2 linked regions of the Homo sapiens genome follow. The gene in region 2 interacts genetically with the main gene of each other region. Each region holds a gene or a part of one and is shown on either strand. Other genes may lie near its edges.

Region 1 (3,500 bases), on a different chromosome or scaffold from region 2:
TTCTAGTCGGGTGGGATGAGAGACGGAGAAAAGAAATAAGACACAGAGACAAAGTATAAAGAAACAACGGTGGGTCCAGGGGACTGGTGCTCAGCACACCAAGGACCTGCACCGGCACCGGCCTCTGAGTTCCCTCAGTTTTTATTGATTATTATTTTTCATTATTTCAGCAAAAAGGAATGTAGTAGGACAGCAGGGTGATAATAAGGAGAAGGTCAACAAATTACATGTGAGCAAAAGAATGTATATCACGATTAAGTTCAAGGGAAAGTACTATGCCTGGACGTGCACGTAGGCCAGACTTATGTTTCTCTCCACCCAAACATCTCAGTGGAGTAAAGACTACAAGGCAGTATCACTGTAAACATGTCTCGCCTCCCGCCACAGGGCAGCTTTTCTCCCATCTCAGAGTTGAACAAATGTACAATCGGGTTTTAAGCCGAGACATTCAGTTCCCAGGGGCAAGCAGGAGATAGTGGCCTTCCTCCATCTCACCTGCAAGAGGCTTTCCTCTTTTACTAATCCACCTCAGCACAGACCCTTTACAGGTGTCGGGCTGGGAGACAGTCAGGTCTTTCTCATCCCACGAGGCCATATTTCAGACTATCACATGGAGAGAAACCTTGGACAATACCCCGCTTTCAAGGGCAGAGGTCCCTGCGGCTTTCCACAGTGCATTGTGCCCCTGGTTTATTGAGACTAGAGAATGGCAATGACCTTTACCAGATGTACTGCTTGTAAGTATTTTGTTAACAAGGCACGTCCTACACAGCCCTAGGTCCCTTAAACCTTGATTTTATACAACACATGTTTTTGTGAGCTCCAAGTTGGGTCAAAGTGGCTGGGTCAAAGTGGCTGGGACAAAGCTACAAATCAACAACATCTCAGCAAAGCAACTGTTTAAAGTACAGGTCTTTTTCAAAATGGAGTCTCTTATGTCTTTCCTTCCTACATAGACACAGTGACAGTCTGATCTTTCTTTCTTTTCCCTACAACTTATTATTATTTTTGAGACAGAGTCTTGCTCTGTCACTGGCCTGGAGTGCAGTGGCCCGATCTCGGCTCACTGCAACCTCCACCTCCGAGGTTCAAGCAATTCTCGTCTCAGCCTCCCAAGTAGCTGGGATTACAGGCACCTGCCACCACATCTGGCTAATTTTTTGTGTTTTTGTAGAGACAGGGTTTCACTATGTTGGCCAGGCTGGTCTTGAACTCCTGGCCTCTTGATCCACCCGTCTCGGCCTCCCAAAGTGCTGGGATTACAGGCGTGGGCCACACCGCGCCTGGCTTAAATGATTTTTTAAAACTAAGTGGCTTAATATTCTGCAATTTTAATCTGAGAGGGGTGGAACAGAAAGCCCCATACCTCATCAGAACCTGGGAGTTGATGAGAAACCATTTGATGACAACCTCCTAGGGGAGATGGGGAGGGAAGTGGGAGATGGCCTCATAGCAGCTTCTGGCAGACCTTCCACCCTCGTGTTCCAGGAGGATTAAACAAGCCTTTCAGCCACAATTCGGTAAGGTGTGGCTCAAGCCATTGTCTCCTTGGATATATTCAAGGCTCTCAGGGAACACTGTTGATAGTGGTATTGGTATTATACTGAAACTTTGTGTTGAGAACCAGGGTTTTGAGAACCAGGGTTTTCACTATGGCAAAAGGAAGATACAAGTAAGGAATGGAGGCATTTGAATAGGGAGGTGACAGTACAAATTACTGATTTAAGGCCAGGCATAGTGGCTGATGCCTGTAATCCCAGTTCTTTGGGAGGCCAAGGCAGGAGAATTGCTTGAGCCCAGGAGTTCGAGACCAGCATGGGTGACATGGCAAAACCCTGTTTCTACAAAAAACACAAAAATTAGCCAGGCATAGTGGTGCTGTCCTGTAGTCCTACCTACTCAGGAAGCTAAGGCAGGAGGATCTCTTGAGCCTGGGAGCCTCTTGAGCAGAGGTTGCAGCGAGCTGAGGTTGTGCCACTGCACTCCAGCCTAGGCAACAGAGCGAGCCCGTCTCAAAAAAAAGACAAAGAAATTTAGGACAGTATGCAAGATTTGGCCTGGATTCTTCTGAGGATGTGAAGTAATGGAAACAGTAAGACTGTTCCAGACTAGGGGAAGACTAGAGACCTAATAGCTGGATTCCATGTGATCTTTTGTTGGACTTTGGGATTGGAGGTGAGAGTAGAGAAGGCATAATGCACGTTTTTGAGACGAGGGAAATGTGAATATAGCCTGTATGCCTACACTCAAGTCTGAAGACATGTAAACCATGTCTATACTAACCAGCCAAATATTTGAACACTAAAAGGAAGAATTTTCTTAATGTGGTAATGGTATCATGGTTGTATAGAATGTTCCTCCTCTTGGGAGATGTGTGTTGAAAATAGGGTTTGACGTCTAAACCTATTTTGTTTTGGCAAAAAGGACGTGTGTCTGTACAAAAGAAGTGGAGCCAGTATGGCAAAATGTTTACAAGGACTCTGGGTGAGAGGTACATAGGTGCTTACTATACTGTTTTGTTTCTGAATTTGGAATTTCTCAAAATTAAAAAAATATCTACTGAGGAGCTTTTCGTTTTAACTGGTGGGGAATGGGTTCTGGGTGGTTTTGCCCCTTTTCTTTTTAGATTCAAGAAATCCATGGTGAAAGGTTTGGATTCCTATGAAGAAAAGGAGGATAAAGTGATCAAGGAGGTAAGTTAAAGTAGCAGTCCCTCACCCTTTTTGCACCAGGGGCTGGTTTCGTGGAAGACGGTTTTTCCACAGATGGACCCAGGCAGGGGATGGTTTCAGAATGAGACTGCTCCACCTCAGATCATCAGGCACTAGATTCTCATAAGGAGCACGCAACCTAGATACCTTGCATGCCCAGTTCACAATAGTGTTTGTGCTCCTATGAGAATGTAACACCACCACTGATCTGACAGGAGCTCAGGCGGCAGTGCTGTTGCAGCCTGCTTCCTGACAGGCCACAGACCAGTACTGGTCCACGCCTGGGGGTGGAGGGCCCAAGTTAAAGGAAAGGCCTCTGAAGAAACTGGCCCCCATGATCCTGTACCTGTCTAAGCAGCCTCTCTCCCACAGATGGCAGCTCAGATCCGTGAGGTGGAGCAGAGCCGACAGGAGGTGGTTCGGTCTGTCTTAGAGGTTGGTTTCCCTCGGAGGATCCAGACCAGTATCCAAATCCACTGATCCCTGGCATTCCCAGGTCCAGCATTTCATGGACTAGTGCTTCTTCTTCTTCTTTTTTTTTTGGAGACAGAGTTTCGCTGTGTCACCCAGGCTGGAGTGCAGTGGCACGATCTCGGCTCACTGCAACCTCCACCTCCCAGGTTCAGGTTCAAGCGATTCTCCTGCCTCAGGCTCCCGAGTAGCTGGGATTACAGGTGCCGCCACCACGCCTGGCTAATTTTTATATTTTTAATAGAGGTGGTGTTTCACCATGTTGGCCAGGCTGGTCTTGAACTCCTGACCTCAGGTGATCCACCCGCCTCAGCCTGC
Region 2 (5,102 bases):
GAACCATTAAAGAGCTTAGGACAAAGTCTTGCATACTGTAAGAATTCAGTATATGTATTAACAATTCAAATACTTTCACACACAATGCAAACAAAAGAATGCATATATCTCTATTATTAATTTTACCTGATTCATTCTGCTAACAATACTAAGCAAGGGAGGAAAACCAATCTGAAAGAAAAAATGAGACTGAATTTTACTAAATGGTATTATAAGCTTCATTTTTTTTTTTCAAACTGGTGAATTTCTTGCCACACTGTTGTTTAGAAACAAAGAACAAATAAAAGAAAATTCTTTCATTGTCCATAACAATGAGACATTCCGGAAACTACTATGTTTGTAATGCGGAAGAAAATAACGCCTTAAATTTTGAATATGTAATTTTTTTTTTAGATGGGGTCTCACTCTGTCACCCAGGCTGGAGTGTAGTGGCGCGATCTTGGCTCACTGCAACCTCTGCTTCCTGGGCTCAGGTGATGCTCCCACCTCAGCCTCACGAGTAGCTAGGACCACAGGTGCATGTCAACACGCCCAGCTAATTTTTTTGTATTTTTGGTAGAGATGAGGTTTTGCCATGTTGCCCAGGTTGGTCTGGAACTCCTGAGCTCAAGTGATCTACCTGCCAGAGCCTCCCAAAGTGCTGTGATTACAGGCATGAGCCACCTCACCTGGTCTGAATTTGTAAATTTTTAAATAAAGTATGATTTTAGTAAGTAAAATGTTAAAGACTAAAAATTTTTTACATGATAGTACTTGAAAAAACTAACTTATTAAGTATATCCAATAAAACTGTAACATTGATAAGATGACATTAATATGTTGTATACACCATTTCAAAATCTTCAGCTAAAGCTAATATTTTCAAGAATTAAGGACACTTGAATTAGAATGACATTTTTAAAACCTAATTTGATTCAATTTTTAAAAGTCTACTTTGGAGTCTGAGGCTGTGATTGCTAATTATGAAAATACCACTGATTTGTGAGAAACTTAAGAGGATATACATTAAACGCTTACTTCCTTAAGGGTTTTTTTTAACATGGTGTATTTTACTTGTATGTATTCTCTGAAAATAAGCTAAATAAGTAAGTTTTAATTCTTTATAAATTAAAAACCATTTTTGGCTAGCCATGATAGCTCATGCCTATAATCCCAGCAGGAGGATTGCCTGAGCCCAGGAGTTTCAGGCCAACCTTGCAACATGGTGAAAACTTCTCTCTACAAAAAAATTTTTTTAAAAAATTAAAAAACTTATCGCTACAAAAAATTTAAAAATTAGCTGGGTGTGGTGGTGGGTGCCTGCTGCCCCTGGTATGTTGAAGGCTGACGTGGGAGGATTGCTTGAGCCCAGGAGGTTGAAGCTGTAATGAGCTATGAGTGCACTACTGCACTCCAGCCTGGATGACGGAAGAAGACCCTGTCTCAAAAAAAAAAAAAAAAAAAAAAAAAAAAAATATATATATATATATATATATAGCTATTTTTGAAATGTAGCATATGTTAAGGATATCATCCAAAAGATCAATTGGTTATATAGAAAGAGTACCAAATTAACTTCCCTAAGATTTGAGTCTATTTATACTCCTGTACCACGTCTAAGAGTGCTTGTTTCCCCAGCTCTTGTCAATATGGTGTATCAAACTTTCTTGGCCAATATGTTACCTGAAAAATAGCACCTTGGCATAGTTATGTTATACTTCTATTACAAGTGATTTTTGGCATCTTGTCATATAAGAATAATTTTATTTCCTTTCTGTGAGGTATCTATATCCTTTGGCTATTTTTTCTTGGGCAGGGGAGGGGTGATTCTTGGTCTTTTTATTGATTCTTGGGGCTTTTTACATTTTTAGGAAAAATTAGTTTTAAATGTGAAAAACACAATGTGGCACCATATAGCAAATAATAAATACCTGTTGAACTGAAAAGAACTACATGCTATAGGGAGTAAGCGCTAATGCAGAGGCATGCACTGGATTCTCAAGGAACACCTGCAAACTTGGGGGCAGGTAAATCCTGAAGGACAAGGAGTTGTCTACATAACTTATGATTACAGCCACATGAATTTTAAAGATATCCTCAACATTTCATCTTTAGAATATGTGATTTATTTTTTACAGGCCCATGAAGTGATAGATGTGATTATGCATTTTAAAGCATCTAATTGTGTCGATTTCCATTTTTTCCCTGGCTACTCATAACACTGTTTGCCTGATGCCTCATCATTTAAAAAAACTATGAATCTTATCCAACTCATAAAATGATTACCAAGCCAAACATAAGGGATATGAAGCCAAACTAAAAAAAGTCACAGTAAATTGTTTCAGAAACTAAGCTGTTTTGTTAGGTTGAAGAGCTAATAAACTAAGTCTGGGTTGGCAAACATTTTCTATCAAGAGTCAGACAGCAAATATTTTAGGCTTTGCAGGCCACATAAAGTCTCAGCCACATATTATTTGTTTCTTTTTTACTCTTTCAAAACCTAAAAACAATCCTTAGCTCATGGATATAAAAAAGGCCATGAACTGGACTTGGCCCAGGGTAGAGTTTGCTGACCCCTTATATTAAGTGGTGCACCAAAATTAAAATGCTTTTTGTTCTGTTTATCCACACAGCCCTTACTTGTACATAATCTATTCCAGGACTTTCATTTGTGGCTGGTCCAACAGCCCCGTCAGCACATAACTTTTCACCCAGACAAAATTTCTTCCAGCCTTCTTCATCTTCAGATTTTGGCTAAAAGAAAAAAAAAAAAACTGATTTATTCCTGTGTATTAATTTTTACACTGAACAGTAAAAAAAAAGAAGTTAAGTCCTTCCATATTCCCATTACCGCAACCCAAAGATACGGAGCCAGTTATGGGGAGAATCTCTGCCCCCAAATTTGTATGTTAAAACCTTAAACTCCAGTACCTCAGAATGTGACTGTATTTGGAGACAGGGCCTTTAAAGAAGTGATTAATTTAAATTGAGGCCATTAGGGTGAGCCGTAATCCAATCTTACTAGTGTCCTTATAAGAGGAAATTTGGATTCACAAAGAGACACCAGGGACTCCCACACACAGAGGAAAGACCACGTGAGAAAACAGGGAGAAGGTGGCCCTATGCAAGCCAAGGAGAAAAGCCTCAGAAGAGACCAACCTTAGGCCGGGTGCGGTGGTTCACGCCTGTAATCCCAGCACTTTGGGAGGCCGAGGCAGGCGATCACATGAAGTCAGGAGTTCAAGACCAGCCTGGCCAACATGGCAAAACCCCACCTCTACTAAAAATACAAAAAAAAAAAAAATTAGCCGGATGTGGTGGTGCACACCTGTAATCCCAGCTACCCAGAGGCTGAGGCAGGAGAATCACTCGAGCCTGGGAGGCGGAGGCTGCAGTGAGCAGAGATTGCGTCATTGCACTCTAGCCTGGGCAACAAGAGCGAAACTCTGCCTCAAAAAACAAACAAACAAACAAAAAGAGACCAACCTTGCTGCCACCTTGTTCTTTGACTTTCAGCCTTCAAGACTGAGAAAATAAATACATTTCTGTTGTTTAATCCACCTAGTCTGTTATGGCAGCCCTGACAAACATAGTGCCTAAGTGGCTACACAATATGTGGGACATGTTGTTTTTCCTTATTATTACATTTTTTGAGACAGGGTCTTGCTCTGTCGCCCAAGTTGGAGTGCAGAGGTGTGATTACAGTTCATTGCAGCCTGAATCTCGGGCTCAAATAATTCTGCCACCTCAGCCTCTTGAGTAGCTGGGACTACAGGCATGTGCCACCATGCCTGATAATTTTTAAATTTTTTTTGTAGAGATAGTTGTCTCACTATGTTGCCCAGGCTGGTCTCAAACTCCTGGCCTCAAGCAATTCTTCTGCTTTGGCTTCCCAAAGTGCTGGGATTACAAGTGTGAGCCACTGTGCCCAGCCAAGATGTGTTTAGTTTGGACAAGACTTTAGTGGACACTGACAGACAATGGTGTGTCCAAAAGAGGATGATAAAGACAGAAATAAGTATGGGGGAAAAAATGCACCAAGAACACTTAATAGAATGAAGGATATTTATCCCATGTAAAGAGACATGATTACATATTTCACATATTTGAAGGGTTGTCCAGTCAAAGAAGAAACAGATCTACTCATGCTGCCAGACAGAAAAAGCAGGACGCAGGACTATTTGGGAGAAGCATTCAGCTCAATATAACCTCCTTAACAAAATAACCTTTGTTTGTACATATCACCTTGTATATTACTTTGCATAGGTGCATTTTCCCCCTAGGGATAAGTAGCTTTCATTAAATCCTTAGGATGAATCACCTGAGGTCAGGAGTTCGAGACTAGCCTGGAAATATGGTGAAACCCCGTCTCTACTAAAAATACAAAAATTAGCTGGGTGTGGTGGCAGGCACCTGTAATCCCAGCTACTTGGGAGGCTGAGGCAGGAGAATTGCTTGAATCCAAGAGACAGAGGTTGCAGTGAGCCAAGATTGTGCCACTGCACTCCAGACTGGGCAACAAGAGCAAAACTCCATCTCAAAAAAATAAATAAAATAAAATAAAATAAAATAAAACCTCACGATGAACATGAGACCACTACAAAGTTAAACCCTATTGTCTTGGAATAAGGTTATCTACCTTTTCCTAACACTCTATTAGGTCAGAAGCTGTTTCTGTTTCAGTTAGTACTGAATATCCTGATTATTAAATATAGCACATGCTTAAATTATTGGATCAATTAATAAACAAATGTTTATGTTTTCACACAGTTGCCATCACAGTGTACTTTATTTTTTAAATAATTTAAATAGAGACAGGGTTTTGCCATGTTGCCCAGGCTGGTCTCGAACTCCTGAGCTCAGGTGATCTGCCCACCTCAGCCTCCCAAAGTGCTGGGATTATAGGCATGAGCCACTGTGCCTGGCTCAGAGTGTACTTTAAAACATTTTCATTTTATTACTTATATGATGTTTGCATTTGCCATGACAAACACTTAAAATTGCTACATAATATTCCACTGTTCTGATGGACCATAGTTTATTGAATCAATTATGTTAGGTCATTTCCATTTTTGACAAAATTTTATCAAGTCATAATGTTACTGATGTGGCTTCTTTTTTAG

The links. Genes that interact genetically often act in the same process or in processes that back each other up.
Region 1: changes in GEMIN2 (region 2) and CENATAC together harm fitness more than expected from each alone (negative genetic interaction), as found in Homo sapiens cells (one large-scale study listed by BioGRID).

What each region holds. Positions count from the first base shown.
Region 1 is NC_000011.10:119,008,138-119,011,637, forward strand, and holds part of CENATAC (centrosomal AT-AC splicing factor), read left to right. Parts: intron 1-2,626; coding exon 2,627-2,693; intron 2,694-3,083; coding exon 3,084-3,146; exon of another isoform or gene 3,147-3,174; intron 3,175-3,500. UniProt on the Homo sapiens protein: Component of the minor spliceosome that promotes splicing of a specific, rare minor intron subtype. Negative regulator of centrosome duplication.
Region 2 is NC_000014.9:39,120,061-39,125,162, reverse strand, and holds part of GEMIN2 (gem-associated protein 2), read right to left. Parts: intron 2,734-5,102; coding exon 2,620-2,733; intron 172-2,619; coding exon 127-171; intron 1-126. UniProt on the Homo sapiens protein: The SMN complex catalyzes the assembly of small nuclear ribonucleoproteins (snRNPs), the building blocks of the spliceosome, and thereby plays an important role in the splicing of cellular pre-mRNAs.